Homo sapiens: one gene and its partner. The protein of the gene in region 1 purifies or fractionates together with the protein of each later gene. This does not show direct contact. Each region holds a gene or a part of one and is shown on either strand. Other genes may lie near its edges.

What was found.
Region 2: the proteins of CIAPIN1 (region 1) and GARS1 fractionate together in Homo sapiens (co-fractionation; 2 studies listed by BioGRID). This does not show direct contact.

The regions. Positions count from the first base shown.
Region 1 is NC_000016.10:57,436,962-57,444,385, reverse strand, and holds part of CIAPIN1 (anamorsin), read left to right. Parts: intron 1-3,402; 5' UTR 3,403-3,457; coding exon 3,458-3,614; intron 3,615-5,051; coding exon 5,052-5,204; intron 5,205-7,424. UniProt on the Homo sapiens protein: Component of the cytosolic iron-sulfur (Fe-S) protein assembly (CIA) machinery required for the maturation of extramitochondrial Fe-S proteins.
Region 2 is NC_000007.14:30,610,063-30,620,035, reverse strand, and holds part of GARS1 (glycine--tRNA ligase isoform 1 precursor), read right to left. Parts: intron 7,941-9,973; coding exon 7,791-7,940; intron 4,141-7,790; coding exon 3,978-4,140; intron 2,923-3,977; coding exon 2,758-2,922; intron 1-2,757. UniProt on the Homo sapiens protein: Catalyzes the ATP-dependent ligation of glycine to the 3'-end of its cognate tRNA, via the formation of an aminoacyl-adenylate intermediate (Gly-AMP).

The DNA of each region.
Region 1 (7,424 bases):
AGAGTTCTAGAACATTACTTTACAGAGCTCTGTGTGCCAGAGCCTGCCGAGTGCCTTGCTTATTTTTATCTTCTCATTTGCTTCTTACAGCAGCCTCGCAAAATATGAGGTTTTTATCCCTACTTTACTGATGAGAAAACAAATTCAAAGAGTCTAGTAACTTATCCATGGTCATGTGCCCATAAGATCCAGTGGTAAATAGAACCCTAGGTCATCTGCACTCAAAACCTGTGCCCTATAAAAGCCTCCGTAAATGTTGCTGAAAAGGTCTAGACATTTGGCTTGTTTTCTCTAGCTAATAAGTAAGCTTTTGCCCTTCGTTTCCTTTATGAGGGTTTTTCTGTAAGTACAGTGCAAAGTTGTGGTAGTCTAGTAGGTGGGGTCTTTTTCATCCCTTTCTATTGTCCCAAGGAAGAACCTATTCCAACATCATTCTAGAAACAGGTCATTTTTTTTTTCTTATAACTTAATGCCCAGCAATCCATACTCCCATCTTGCCTGGCTGGTTCTTAAATGGGAGATTGATCCCATATTGCACACCTTGAAGTTTGCAAGGGTTCTTCCTCGACATCATGTGCCAGTTAAAAGTTTCAGTTCTTGATTGTGTGCTGTTTAGGGATTTAAAAACCAAAATTGGCCAGGCACGGTGGCTCATGTCTGTAATCCCAGCACTTTGGGAGGCCGAGGTGGGCAGATCACTTGAGGTCAGGAGTTTGAGAATAGCCTGGCCAACAACTCTGTTGCTACTAAAAATACAGAAATTAGCCAGGTGTGGTGGCGTCCACCTGTAATTCCAGCTACTTGGGAGGCTGAGGCATGAGAATTGCTTGAACGCTGAAGGCGGAGGTTGCACTGAGTTGAGATTGTGCCACTGCATTCCAGCCTGGGTGACGGAGTGAGACTCTGTCTCAAAAAACAGAACAAACAAACAAAAACACCACAGAATTAGCTGGATGCCGTGGCTCACACCTGTAATCTCATCACTTTGGGAGGCTGAGGCGGGTGGATCACCTGAGGCTGGGAGTTCAAGACCAGCCTGACCAACATGGAGAAACCCCGTCTACTAAAAAAATACAAAAGTAGACGGGCATGGTGGTGCACGCCTGTAATCCCAGCTACTCAGGAAACTGAGGCGTGAGAATCGCTTGAACCCGGGAGGCAGAGGTTGTGGTGAGCCAAGATTACACTCCAGCCTGGACAACAAGAGTGAAACTCTGTCCTCCCCACCACCCCCGCAAAAAAAAAAAAAAAACAAAACCAGAATTATTGTCTTTTTAATTATTTTTTTTTCTTTTTTTTTTTCCATTTTTACTTGCCCTCTGTCATTAAGGAAAACAGAGTTAAATGACTAAAGAATCCTACTTGTCTGATAACACTTAGCATCCTTTTAGGGGCGCTTGCAGTTGGATCATATGGAAGGAGCTAGATAAAAGGCATGATGAGGGGAAAATGCAAAGGGTTTTCATAGAATAAGGAGGGATCACTTTGGAATGGTGGGAGATACAGGTAGAGCCAGATTATGGAGGCCGTGGATCCAGAAGGCCAATTGACATCAGTCTAGCAAATAAAACCTTTAGTAACTCCTTTAGGAAAAGAGTGACAAATCAAAGTGCTATAGTATTTAATGCTTGAGTGTTAAATATTTAACATCCTGAGTATGTTTTGTAGGCAAAGAGGAGAGTTACTTGAAGTGAACTTTGGTTTTTTTGAGACAGGGTCTGGAATGTAGTGGCACAATCTTGGCTCACTGCAGCCTCAACCTCCTGGGCTCAAGCAGTCCTACCACCTCAGGCCCTCTCCTCCACCCCAGTAGCTGGGACTACATAAGATTACTACATAAGACTACCATAGATTCTGTCACCACGCCCAGCTAATTTTTGTATTTTTAGTAGAGATGGGGTTTCACCACGTCGCCCAGGCTGGTCTTGAACTCCTGGACTCAAGGGATCCACCTGCCTCGCCTTCCCAAGGTGCTGGGATAATAGGCATGAGCCACCACGCCCAGCTATAATTTTTTATTTTTTATTTATTTATTTATTTTGAGACGGAGTCTCGCTCTGTCACCAGGCTGGAGTGCAGCGGCACGATCTTGGCTCACTGCAACCTCCATCTCCCAGGTTCAAGCGATTCTCCTTCCTCAGCCTCGTGAGTAGCTGGGATTACAGGCATGCACCACCACACCCAGCTAATTTTTGTATTTTTAGTAGAGATGGGGTTTCACCATGTTGGCCAGGCTGGTCTCAAACTCCTGGGCTCAGGCAATTCGCCTGGCTCGGCTTCCTAAAGTGCTGAAATTACAGGTGTGAGCCACTGTGCCCAGCCGAAGTCAACATTTTAAAAGAAACAAGAGTGTAGTGACTTCGCTTGAATTCAGTCTGTATCTGTGGTGGCATGATTGCCACTGAGTTGGCCACCTCTGCAGAAGTCTGAAGTGTTCAACATAAAACTAATCCATTTTGACTCCTCTACCACAAATTGTTTGTTTCATTTATTTGAGCTATTTTAAATTGGAAACTGGTGTCATTAATGTTTAAGAAAGAAAGGAGAAACTGAGTAGAGTACTATCTCTTGACCTAATTTCTTTGTGAGCATATTATATACTCACCTAAGTATCAAGTGGAAGAGGAAGTTGATCCCTGGAGGGAAATTTCCATAGGTTAAAAGCATGGGATTTACAGTCAGATGAATTTGGGTTCAAATCCCAGCTCTCACTTTATCCATGTAGCACTCACTAGCTGTGTGACTTGGGCAACGTAAATTGCCTCAGTTTCCAGACTGTAAAATGGTAATAATATCTAGTTTAAGGCTGTTCTGAGATTCAGTTGAGATAATGTTTAGAAGATGCTTTGAACAATGTAGCTAATATTAAATGGTACAGACATAGTAAGTATTCTTGATCACTGCAGATTCAGTGGAATTAAATTTTCATATTTTGATGAAAGGGAAAATAACCAGTATTCAGTTTGCAAATTTAAATGTGTTGTTTCTTTTTAAAAACATTGAATCTGTGGTTGGGTTATTTCTGTCAATTTATTTGCCTTCCTTGCCAAGTCACACTTTGCCTAATTGATGTCCTGTGTGTTTTCCATTCCGTTCATGCTGAATTATCTTAGGTCAAAGAGGAAATCATCTTTCTGCCTCCAACCTTCTTACTTGCCTCTAATCCCCTTTCTTGACTCTTCCAAGTCAGGATTCTCACCAAGGAAGCTATCTGCCTTCTTTGGGAATGTTGGGCTTATGAAGACTTGAGATAATGGGGTTCATGTATTCAGACTCTTTAGCATATACAGTAGAGTTTCTAATGTTGTCAGCATTCCCTAGTGGGCGGTTACAAGTTAGGTTGGGATTCTAATCATATTTTATGATATCTCACAGATTAAATTGCACTTTGTCTCTGCCCAGTCTTGATTCCCTTTTGGCCAGCAGTTTTTAGGTCTGTCAGTACTGCACTGCAAGAATGGCAGATTTTGGGATCTCTGCTGGCCAGTTTGTGGCAGTGGTCTGGGATAAGTCATCCCCAGTGGAGGCTCTGAAAGGTCTGGTGGATAAGCTTCAAGCGTTAACCGGCAATGAGGGCCGCGTGTCTGTGGAAAACATCAAGCAGCTGTTGCAATGTAAGTACCCACCCACGTTGTCTTTATGAGGCTGGAGGGGTTTCCATGGGAGTGTTGCATTTCTGTGGTTCCTTGATATCTGAGTTTTCATTTAGGGTGGCATGTGATAGTGGTGGCTGGTCACCCTGTTGTTTTTCAGTTGAGATATATCGGAGGAACCACCCCCAATAATTCAACGTAGGTTCTTTTCTATTTTCCCTAAGTGTCGGCTGGTCTGAGAAATAAAGGGAAAGAGTACAAAAGAGAGAAATTTTAAAGCTGGGTGTCCGGGGGAGACATCACATGTCGGCGGGTTCCGTGATGCCCCTCAAGCCGCAAAACCAGCAAGTTTTTATTAGTGATTTTCAAAGGGGAGGGAGTGTACGAATAGGGTGTGGGTCACAGAGATCACATGCTTCACAAGGCAATAAAATAAGGCAAACGGGGGCAGAGCGAGATCACAGGACTGGGGCGAAATTAAAATTGCTAATAAAGTTTCGGGCACGCATTGTCATAGATAACATCTTATCAGGAGACAGGGTTTGAAAGCAGACAGCTGGTCTGACTAAAATTTACTGGGTGGGAATTTCCTCGTCCTAACAGGCCTGGGAGTGCTACGGGAGACCAGGGCTTATTTCATCCCTTATCTGCAACCATATAAGACAGACATCCCAGAGTGGCCATTTTAGAGACCTCCCCCTAGGAACGCATTCTCTTTCTCAGGGCTGTTCCTTGCTGAGAAAAAGAATTCAGTGATATTTCTCCTATTCACTTTTGTAAGAAGAGAAATATGGCTCTGTTCCGCCTGGCTCTCAGGCAGTCAGACCTGATGGTTATCTCCCTTGTTCCCTGAACATCGCTGTTATCCTGTTCTTTTTTCAAGGTGCGCAGATGTCGTATTGTTTAAATGCACATGCTTTATGAACAATTTGTGCAGTTAACGCAATCATCACAGGGTTCTGAGGCAACATACATCCTCAGCTTATGAAGATGACGGGATTAAGAGATTAAAGTAAAGACAGGCATAGGAAATCACAAGAGTATTGACTGAGGAAGTGATAAATGTCCATGAAATCTTCACAATTTATATTCAGAGATTGCAGTAAAGACAGGCGTAAGAAATTATAAAAGTATTAATTTGGGGAACTAATAAATGTTCATGAAATCTTCACAATTTGTGTACTTTTGCCATGGCTTCAGCCGGTCCCTCCGTTTGGGGTCCCTCACTTCCTGCAGCAGAGCTTAGGAGTGTAGTTGATGATTTCCATAAGTATGTTCTTTCTTGGTAGCTATTCCATGTTTTTTTAAAACACTTACTATTCATCCAGCTTCTTGGATGGATATCGAGTGGTGTCCATTCTCTCAGGGTGAGGTCTGTAGCTTTTGTTGGGGGTTGGAAGGGACCAGGAGATTATCCCAGGCTCAGGAGATTGCTAATTAGAGTCCTCTTCTTTTCAGCTGCCCACAAAGAATCCAGCTTTGACATTATTTTGTCAGGTTTAGTCCCAGGAAGCACCACTCTGCACAGTGCTGAGATTTTGGCTGAAATCGCCCGGATCCTTCGGCCTGGTGGATGTCTTTTTCTGAAGGAGCCAGTAGAGACAGCTGTAGGTAAGGAGATCTTCACTTGGAAAACATGTTTGACAGGGTTGAGTCTTAGAGTATGTGTGCTGCATCTCCGTGAGCAGGAGGTATCATTGGGAGATCAGTATTCCTGTAGCAAAACCTTTTCCTTGGGGATAAATTATTGTTAAAATCTGAAGCAACATATCTGGAGAAATTGTAATCTTTGGCTGACTCATTATGTAATAAAATAGAAGGAAACTGCCATCTAAAAATGGGTCCTTTTGCAGGTGAATAAACTTTGATATGTTCATAATATGGAAAGTGATGCAGCAATAAAAATGAACTAGCTAACTATATGTACATCAGCTTGGATGGATATCAAGGGAAGTAGCTGAGTGAAAAAAGCCAATCTCAAAAGGCTCTGTACTGTACAAATCCATTCATATGCTCGAAATAACAAAATTGTGGCGGTGGAGATCAGAGTTTGCCAGAGGTTAGAAGTGGGAGGAAAGGGTTGGTGGAGCTATAAAGGGGTAGTATGAGGGTTCCTGTGGTGATAGAACAATTCTGTGTTCTGAATGTCGTGGTGGTTACACAAATCTACACATATAATAAAATTACATAGAACTATATAGCCCCCTTCTGCCAAACGAGTACATATAAAAGAAATGAAATCTGAAAAAGTTATGTGGACCATCAATATCAATTTCCCGGTCTTCATATCATGCTATAATTGGGTAAGATGTTAACTGTGGGGAGGGACGAAGTGAAGACCTCCTTAATATACAGAACTTTTTTTTGTTTTTTCCAACTTCCTGTGAATCTATAGTTATTTCAAAATTAAAAGTTTAAAAATAGTGGCCGAACCCTGGGAATGATGTGGTAATTATTGATTCATGTGAAACTAATGACAGTGTTCATGAAGTAAAAACTTTTTTGATCGGTGGTATAGCTGTCAGAGTGATTCAAGTCTGGATTTTTAATATTTTTCACTAGACTTTCAGTCAAAACATAACCATTTCATCAAATAGAATAATAGAAATGAAAGTATTTTGAAATGTATAAAGGTGTTCATTGTTTATTTGGAAATAGAACTTTGTGTTATGTGTAGTATAAATCAGCATTCTTTGCTGGGAATTTAAACCTTACATGACTAAATGTAGTGTCTTAGAACTATACAGAGATAAAAAAGGAACTATTCAGAAGGAATACTTGTGTTTCTGTGCACTTTGCAGTTCATAAGCCTCTTTTCATAGTCATTATCTCACAACCTCTGGAAGGGGTTTCAAGAAGCAGAGAGTGATAAAAAAACAATAATAATGGAATTATAACATTTAAGAGCTTAGGTAAAAACACTTCGAACAACAAAAAGGATTTGTCAAATTAAAATAGTATCGCTATGGCCAGGCACAGTGGCTCACACCTGTAATCCCGGCAGTTTGAGAGGCTGGGGCAGGCAGGTTGCTTGAGTCCAGGAGTTCGAGACCAGCCTGGGCAACATGGCGAAACCCCGTCTCTACAAAAAATACAAAAATTAGCCCAGTGTGGTAGTGCACACCTATAACCCCAGCTACTTGGTGGGGGCTGAGGCAGGAAGATTGCTTGAACCTGGGAGGTCGAGGCTGCAATGAGCTGAGATCATGCCACCGCACTCCAGCCTGGGTGACAAAGTGAGACCCTGTCTCAAAAATAATAATAATAATAATAATAATAAAATAATATCACTAAAATATATATACAATTGTCCTCATCTTACAATGGAGTTACATCCTGATAAATACTATTAAGATGAAAATGCATGTAATTCATCTAACCTACTAAACACAATTGCTTAGGTTAGCCTAGCCTACCTTAAACACGCTTAGGACACTTGCGTTAGCCTACAGTTGGGCAGAATCATCTAACACAAAGCCTGTTTATAATAAAGTGCTTAGTATCTCATGTAATTTACTGAAAACTGAAGTATACAGTTTCTACTGAATGAGTATTACTTTCATACTATCATAAAAGTTGAAAAATTATAGGTAGAACCATCATTAAGTCAAGGACCATCTGTACATTAAACAGAATAGGTTATTATTTTTTTTTTGTTTTTTCTTTGAGATCAAGTCTCACTCTGTTGTGCAGGCAAGAGTGCAGTGGTGCAATCTCGGCTCACTGCAACCTCCGCCTCCCAGGTTCAAGCGATTCTCGTGCCTTAGCTTCCCAAGTAGGTGGGATTACAGGCGTGTGCCACCACGCCTGGCTATTTTTTTTGTGTGTATT
Region 2 (9,973 bases), on another chromosome or scaffold:
GGAGGCTAAGGCGGGTGGATCACCTGAGGTCAGAAGTTCAAGACCAGCCTGGCTAACACGGAGAAATCCTGTCTTCATGAAAATACAAAAATTAGCTGGGTGCAGTGCCATGTATCTGTAATCCCAGCTATTTGGGAGGCCGAGGCAGGAGAATCGCTTGAACCCAGGAGGCAGAGGCTGCAGTGAGCTGAGAGTGCACCACTGCACTCCAGCCTGGGTGACAGAGTAAGACTCTGTCTCAAAAAAAAAAAAAAAAAAAGAAAAAAAGAAAAAACTACTAAGCTTTCCAAGCACATGTTATCACATGGGGTGTCTGTAATAAAGCAAGCAAATATAAAACTCATATGAGCTCAGAAACTCCAACACAAAACAACAACAAAAGGAATTAAAGAACAAAGCCTAAAAACATGTAACCTGGCAATCTGACATTCCCTATACATGTCGACTGGTTAAGTATACTTATGTTCTTAACCATATAGTTTGGTGGTTATAATTTACTGCAGATGTCAACTAACATTTATGTACTGAAAGGTAAAATTACAAAAACGTGCCTGAGAATAACAACATTGGGATAGTGGTTACTTCTCTGGATGGAAAGAGAATTGGTGTGGCATTAACTGCAACGGTAAATTTTTTTATTAAAAAAATATATAAAGTACACAAAAAGTATTAAACTCTCTAAGGGAGTTCTCCCCTCTCCTTAAGAGCCTCTGGGACTCTGGAGCTTCTTGTTTCATTTAGCCCTGTTTTCCAGTGACTTTCCATTTTCTGATCCCTAACCCTCACAATGGCACTTAGATAAGGACGAGCAGGCATCCAGTGGGGTTTATAAAGCAGTACAGCATAACTGTTAAGAGCATGAGTCTGGTGTCAGACAGCCAGGTTTATATCCCAGCCTCACCACTCACTGGCTGTGAGACTTAAGCAAATTACTTAACTGAGACAGCAAGAACAACATCTGGTTTAATCTGAAATCAGAATCAGAGCAAACTAAGAGAAGGAGCTGGGTATGAAACAAAAAGAAAAGTAATAATCTTTTCTCATACAAAAGGAAAAACATTTTATTGGTTTGATCTGAAAATAAAAAGAAGTCCCAGAAAATCTAAAAAGTGTAAAGAAATTAATGATCACCCATAATCCTAAAAATAATTACTATTATCATTTTGACATATGTCAAGCAAGCTTGCTAAGAAAATCCTAACAGATTACAGTAATTCTTTCTAATTCCACAAGGGAAAAAGAATATATTAAAAACAACATCATTAATAGCCATTTATAAACATATGCATATTATTATGCATTTATGCATGCATGTGTTAGAACACGTAGAAAAATCATCTAGAGAAGGCAGACATACCCAAGACCATGGAGCTAAGCATGATCTTTTTTCGTCTGTTTGTTTGAGACAGGGCCTCACTCTGTCACCCAGGCTTGAGTTCAGTGGTGCAATCATGGCTCACTACAGCCTCAACCTCCCGGGCTCATGTGATCTTCCCACCTCAGCCTCCCAAGTAGCTGAAACTACAGGGGCGTGCTATCACACCTGGCTAATTTTTGTATTTTTTGTAGAGACAGGGTCTTGCTATGTTGCCCAGGCTGGTCTCAAATTTCTGAGCTCAAGCAATCTTCCCACCTCGGCCTCCCAAAGTGCTAGGATTACAAGCATGAGCCACCACACCCAGCCAGTTTGGACATTTTTTAAAAGCTGTTTTTTACAAGCTGTAAAAAACAACAAAGTTATGTGACAGAGACTCATAAAGCTAAAAATATTTACCATCTGGTCCTTTATAGAAAATGTTTGCTCAATACAGAGAAGAGACATAAAACACCTGGGGAGAGGCATATAACTGGAAGTTTAATTTTCTACATAATAGTCTTCAGAATTATTTTTTCCTTTTTGTTTTAAAAAAAGTAGTCATTACTTTTTAAAATATGACTAATTTTGATTTTTAATTTTTAAAAATCCATAAAAAGAAAGCCATTCTGAAAAGTAAAAACTGAACCAAGGGTATACTGGAACCAGTGACCCCTGGACTAAAGTCTCTTTCTATGTAGGCGAGGAAGCCTCTCTAACACCCAATAAGAGAAATGCCAAAAGACTCTCAGCCTTGTTTTAGATGCCACATTTCCTCCTGCCACCAATATAGACAGCATCTCCTATATGCAAATGCCTTTCGTCCCTCCGCTTCAATACTGATGTTCATGTTTGGTGGTGGAGGCTGGAGGGGTGACAGGGCACAGGGGCAGGAGGGTACCTGGAGATCGTCTGTGAATTTTGAGTTAAATACATAACATTTGAGGAAGGTAGTTCTTAAGCCAGAGATCAGAATCAACTAGTATATTCCCCAAAGCTACTACATAGCTCATTGAGCTAAGAGCACTATGACTTTCTTTATTCAACCTCTCCACCATTTCCAATGTTTGCTGGGACTCTTGCCAGGAAGGAGAGGCCAATGTGTCTTAGATCCACTCCAGGATATTGCCAGTAATGCTGCCAATACACTGTACAGCAGTGTACACATCCGCACTGTCCCATCATACACTAACTCTGTCTCTCAGCTATCTAAGACTACAACGAGCTCCTTAGGACACTTATAAAAAGGCAGGAGGCAACTGCTTTTTCTGTTTTGCTCAGGAAAAGATCTCTTTTCTTTTCCCTTTGTTCCTCTGTGACATAAAGTGCACAAAAATTCATTTGGTACCTGTGCTTCTAAGTTAACAATGTGAAAATCACATGGTAAACAGCACTCCACTTACGTAGGATGTTTTGGATTCTGCATCCCAACAGTCACAGGCATAATGGGCCATCTCATTCTCCATGTGCTGCCGGAAGCGGAGTTTATCTGGAGATATTCCAACCTTCGTGAGGTAGAGGTAGATGCGGCCAATGAAATAGCCTAATACTGTGTTATTAATCACACCCTAAACCAACCAATAAGCAAGCATGGAGGAAGAAAAGAAAACACACATTAATACTCTTCAAAGCCAAGATATCGGTTTCCATTGACTCACTCTACTGAAAAATATTTGACACCCAACACAAACTATTTTATCTTGCTTTCAAAACAATTTCAAATACTCAGAATGAGATCTTGGTTATTTTTTAATGGGTTAATGTCAAGATGATGATAATGGAGTTATTCAAAATCTGTCCAACATACTTACTGGGTCAGCAAAAATTCAGCCCAGTACCTCATACCTCTAAATCTACAGTACTAAAAACAATATTCATAATTGACACTAAAGAATGGCAAAGACATTCCCCTCTGAATTAACCAAAGTAATGACACGTTGAGGGGATTTTAATGTATCCTTACCCACTGAAATTTGTGAACCCCGTAGAGTACACGTAATCATTTTAGTGTTTGCAAGGACCTTAGAAAACATCTAGCCCCATCTCCATACACTGCAGAGGTCTTCTCTGCAAAGTGGCTGACAAGCTATCGTCCAACCTTGCCAGGAGTATTTTCAGGGCCAGGAAGCTCACTGCTCCCTGAGGCAACTCATTCCACTAGTGGACAGCAGCTACTGTTGGCAAGTTTTCACGCACTCACTTCTCCAGGCAAATATTTACAAAGTGCTTATATGCAAGGCCTTATTCCACTGCTATGGGTAATACAGAAGAGTCTGAAACCCAGATGGCTTGCTTTCTGTGGGTCCAATGCTGTCTCCCCCAAAGTAGTACATACTGTTGAGTCAGATTGGTGAGGCACAATGCAAACCAAGATCTATTTTCCAAGTGCTCTGCTAAACATTTTTTTTCATGCTAGCCCCAAGGCCCACAAATTGAGATGTTCAGGTGATTTTTCTCTTACTATAATAATACTGTATAACAAATTCTGTACAAAACCAAGTACTGTAAAAAAGCAAATGACTGCCAAAATAAAATATCTTGTCACCCAGAACACATAGAATTTGCTAATTGCTGCAAACCCTGAACAGGCACAATCTAAGTTAAGTTACCTCCAGAATCCTACCTGTTCAACAGCATCTCCCAGGCGCATTTTCCGAGCGGACTGTCCGCTGACCTGGGCTTTTGCTGAATACAAATAAAGGTGAAGGTCTGCCACATTCTGGAACTTGGGGTGGTCTTTCTCACTGGGATCTACAAAGTGCTCAATTTCTGCCATTGTGAATTCTCTGAAAGCAAAAACGTAAGCGATAAACCTGCATATTTAACTACAAAAAACAAACAAACAAAAAACAAGGCCTCTATTTTCAACTGCATTCTAGTGATAAAGGCTCCATACTATAGTGGTCTTTTTCACTAAACAGAAAGTTGGTTTCCTAAGGGAATGGCCAAAAAAATTTTGAATTAAATTTGTCTGGGTAGTTGTTATTTTTATTTTTTTGATGTATTATATTTGTACAAATTTATGGGGTACATGTGAAGGTTATTTTTAAACACATTAATGAAAATTTTATTACTCACTATTTAAAATAAACATGATCTAACTTCTCTGAAGTATTAATTCCTTCCCTCCAGCTACATCCAAAAAGATTATTACTTTTAACTGAAAATAACTTGTTAAAGGCAGATTAATATAGTTTTTTAAATTAGGAAAACATACGCAAAAATCACATGAAAAATAAGAAATAAGATATTGAATAGTGACATGCAGATAAAATGGTTTTCCTTAAAGCATTAGCAAGTCTTTATAAGTATACACTAAATGAAGTTTCTTCATCCCATTTCAAAGAATGGGAAATTAAAAGCGAAATGAAATGGTTCTTTAGCTTTCATAGCAGTTTGATTTCTTCTTTTTTACTGCTACAAAAAAGTAAATGACTGATAATGGCATCATACAGTTGGTTTCTTTGGAGCAAGAGCTTCTTAAATAAAGTGTTATTCAAGGCAAAGGATATAAGGCATGAATTGAACAAGCTAACATCAAGCTAATTACCTAACGATGAAGTGCACATAGTAATGGTTTCCCAAAGAGATTTCTCTGAATGCAATTTAGTAGCTATTTGCGGGAGAAGTGTTTCAAGTTAATTTTATGAGTCAAAATCAATCTCTCTTCTTTCAAGAAAAATCACATTTTCTGGTGTGCTTCCATGATTATCTCAGATGTTTTACGAGTAATGTAAAATTGCTTAAATGGATCCTAAAAATACATGAAATACACTGCAAAAGAGGTTTAATTTTTTTTTTTTTTTTTTTGAGACGGAGTCTCGCTCGCCCAGGCTGGAGTGCAGTGGCGCGATCTCGGCTCACTGCAAGCTCCGCCTCCCGGGTTCACGCCATTCTCCTGCCTCAGCCTCCCGAGTAGCTGGGACTACAGGCGCCCGCCACCACGCCCGGCTAATTTTTTGTATTTTTAGTAGAGGCAGGGTTTCACTGTGTTAGCCAGGATGGCCTCAATCTCCTGAACCTCATGATCCGCCCGCCTCTGCCTCCCAAAGTGCTGGGATTACAGGCGTGAGCCACTGCGCCCGGCCAAGAGGTTTAATTTTTAAATTTTATTTTTTAATAGTGTCTCTTATTTGGTCCTGCTGCACCTATGTTTTAGTTGTCTTTCAACAACTAGGAAACATCTTCTGTGCCCATATAAATGTGAGAGAAACAAACATGGTGTTTGTCCTCACATAGCTTATAATTGGGCTGACAGCAACTGAACATCTACAATGTGGGACAGGATAAATTACGGGCCCTGCCTAGAATCTCCAAAATGCTGCTGCCAAAGTCTTTCCATCTGTTCTGTCACAAATCTCAGCACTGTGTCTATAGTTAATGATTCACTGTATACCTGAAATCCGCTCAAAGAGTAGATGTTAAGTAGATCTCACCACTAAAAAAAAAAAAAGTAACTATGTGAGGTGATAATTATGTTAATTAGCTTGACTGTGGTAATCATTTCACAATGTATAAGCATATCAAAGCACCACACTGTGTGACTTGAAATCATACAAATCATACAAAATTTACTCATCAATAATCTCAGCTCATAGATAGGAGGCAGGAATCATCAGAATTCTGAGTAACTGTATCTCAGTTCAGCAACTGTACCTGAAACTGTAGAGAACTAAAATACACACAGGCTAGGAAGACAGATAAGTCAATCAAAATAAAATAAAATTTTAGAAAAATCTTCATATGAACAATCTAATACCTCTAAACTAACAAAAGGACAAAAGGAAATACAGCTATGCAAAGATTAATCACCAGAGAACTCTGCCATCAAGAAGAATCAGAACACTAAATAAACCAATCCTAGTCCTACCATGGAACAAAAGCCAGGAGGATGCTGACTCATGAAAAAACTAGTGGACTTCTGGTCAGGAACTTGCAAGGGACATAACAAAACTAGCCAGAATTCAGACATGACACTTTGAAGTGAAAATGACCAAAGAATCCACTGTTGAGAAGCCCCAGAGCCTTTCTACCAGTTAACCCCTGGGATCACTCCCAAGTTCCAAGCTGGTTTCCCTACTCACCACTTTTTTACTGCACAGGCCCCAGACACTGCCTTACTTCTCAGTCCTTCTCAATAATCTTCCCATAGCTACTCTGTGTAAACCCTCTTCGTAACACTGGCTTCAGACAAGGTCAGCCTTACGCAGCTTCCTCAGTTTGGGAAGGCATACTTGCTAGATATTGAAACGGTGAAAAACAAAAAAACAAAAACACTCAGACACTGGGAAATAAAACAAAGACTCAAATCTGACAAATTTGTCATTGCCATCATACCTGGCTAAAGTTTCTGATGACCTCCTCTTTTTACATGAAAGCTCAGAGGGGTCATTCCCCCAACTTTCTCTAAGTTGGGCACATTCTTTCCTCTGTAAGTCCCTCCTTCCTAAACCGTAAACCTGTAGGGCCTAGAGATACAGTTTGCGCAGAACATAGGCATCTTCTCCCAGATGGCATCATGGGAACTAACAAGATGAGGCAGGTGCTGTGGATGCTTTGATCCAGAGTCAGTGACTGGGCTATGTTATGACCCAAGTCTGTAATTACAGTGAGTAAGAAGAGAAGACAGGAAATGGGTGGGCGCTGGGGCTGGGAAAACACTTTGGGGCCTTAGAAAGTTATGTTTAGCTACACCTCGTATTTTATATGGAATGTATTACTCTAAGAGATGATACCAGGAATAACGTATAGAAATCACAAAAAACTTAAGTCATAAACAGCTGAGTCATAATAAATTTCTAAAGAAATATAGAACTCACCAGCCCCAATATGCCTTCCCACACATCCCTGGATAGATCAGACAAAAGTAGGCTATTTGAATAGAGGCCAAGTGAGTGATGAGGGTAAGCTTGCTTGCTGGCCTTTCTGTCATATAGGCCCCCCAAATACCTGGACGGAGGTTGTTTCCAGAACTCCAGTTGGTTACTGATACATCCTCACCCCAACTTCAGCAATGTTGTCTGCCCTAGATATCTAGAACAATCCTCCTGCCACAACTTTCACCCTACCCCCACCCGACCCCACCCTTTTATACACATCACCATTGCCAGTATTGCCTTGGTTTAGACAATCAAGATATTACCATCCTCAAAATATACGATGAACAAGGAAAAAGGTAATTTTGGAGCAGGTGAGACTCTTAAGACAGTCTCCACCCTCCTTCCTTTCCCTTCAAGTTCACTTTTGTCACTCAAAACTGCCTGTCATCCTGGAGATTACATTTAGAGATTCCAAATGTAAAACATGATTTTTGGAGAAAACAAAAATAAATTCATAATCAGGATTATGAAGCAGAATTGCTTCAAAACAGCAAGCTTTCATTTTCAATGCAATGCCAAGGTCATTCACTAATTTGTAAGAGTAACCTGAGCAGTACCTGACTCTGATCAGTCCAGATCGAGGGGAGATCTCATTTCTAAAAGAATTTCCAATCTGGGCAGCAGCAAAAGGCAACTTTCCTTGGTTGAACTCCAAAAGTCGTTTGAAATTCAAGAAAATCCCCTGTGCAGTTTCTGGTCTCAAGTACCTATAAATTTAAGTAAGTCAGTCTGTTACAAAGAAAGAAATTATGTTTTCCAACAATCCTGAAATTCTAGATACAAATCCTAAAAGTCCTAAATATACCATTTTCACAACAAAGTTGAACAGGCCCTAAAATGAAGTTTTAGAAATATTTTCCTCGGTAGCAAACATTTTCATAGCACGTATTAGAAAATGTATTAAGTAATTAGTGTGGCAGTACTACTTTGGCAATGCCATTTCATTTAATTACACCAGTGAGTCAAAACCCCACTTCTCAAAAAGCAGAAATAAAAATAAATTTAAAAACACCACCTCAGGCCGCGCGCAGTCGCTCACACCTGTAATCCCAGCACTTTGGGAGGCTGAAGTGGGCGGATCACCTGAGGTTGGGAGTTCGAGATCAGCCTGACCAACATGGAGAAACCCTGTCTCTACTAAAAACACAAAATTAGCCAGGCGTGGTGGCACATGCCTGTAATCCCAGCTACTCAGGAGGCTGAGGCAAGAGAATCGCTTGAACCTGGGAGGCAGAGGTTGCAGTGAGCCGAGATCACGCCATTGCACTCCAGCCTGGGCAACAAGAGCGAAACTCCATCTCAAAACAAACAAACAAAAAACACCACCTCTCCCATAGTGCCCCTTAAACCCCTGATGTCTTCTAAGTCATCATGTACATGGAGGCAGATGACAATCTTAGGTCCTTTGGAAAATAATACCCATGCCTATGTTTAGCCCTGTTAACCCACATATTAAAACTTAACTGAGGGGCTAAAAAGAAATCAGTATAGGCTCACATTTAACATCAGCACTCACTTATCACTATCACCTCACCAAGCCAGGTAATTTTCAATGTTTTTCAAATCATTTTATTATCTGCAGTATTTTATATTTTCAACCAGAGGCTTCCGCATTTCTCTGTATTTTAAAGATATAGTCAAGCAAATACACTACTATAACCACTGCCCTCTCAATTTCCTAGAAGATATTCTGTGCAAAACATCCACTAAGGAAACGCTCCCAATGGCCTACTTCAGAATAAGTATTTTACTAAAATAACTTTAAAACCAAGGGCTAAAAACCCTAAAATTGTACCCTCTTCTTACTTAACAGACCAACTCTTTTGATTTTTATGGCCCTTTCCAGATTTCATCCAAATGTAAGTAAAGTTTATACATATATTTACAGTTAGTATGTATAAAATCATGTATTACCTATTTTATACTTCCCATTTTCTAAATAATGGCACAAATTTCTCACATTTAATAGTGACAGAATATTATCCCAAACTAATCCACTTTACCATAATTTGTTTAACCACTCTCAAATTACTGAATAGGTTATTTCTACTTTCAATTTATATACTTCTTCTAAGTATAATTTCCTTTCCTTCTGAATTATTTCCTTAGATCAATTCCCAGAAATGGAATGTCTGGGTCACAGGTTATGTCTCATTTTATGACTCTGTACATATGGCCAAAATGAAAGGCTTGCCACTGGCCTCTTTCCATGAAATATTCCAAATCAACCTGATGTCTCATTAGAATAATTAACTGCAACACATTTTGTCACAATTAATTTTTCTTATTCTTCAGTCCCTACTCTGGGAAACACGATCTATCTAGCTCATGTAGGAAAAACTTACTCTCTTACCCTATCATAGAAAAATATCTAAAGCTATGAAATGGAACACTGGCTAAGTCTGTTAAACAGTGGACAAGGAATCAGAAGATAAAGATTCCAATTCTGAATCATACTGTAAACTAACCAGATATTCTTTATCCATGAAAACCACATCTTTCAAATCAACAGGCTATACCTATGCTGTCCAATATGGTAGGACACCAGGCAGATGTCTATTTAAATTTCAATTAAGATGAAATAAATTTTAAAATTCAGTGCCTCAGAAGAACTGGACCCATTATGAGTGCTCAAGAGCCAAATGTGGCTGGTAGCTAATCATACTGGACAACACACATTACAGAACATTTCCATCACTGCAGAAAGTTCCGTTGGACAGTAGCATGCTAAACTAAATGG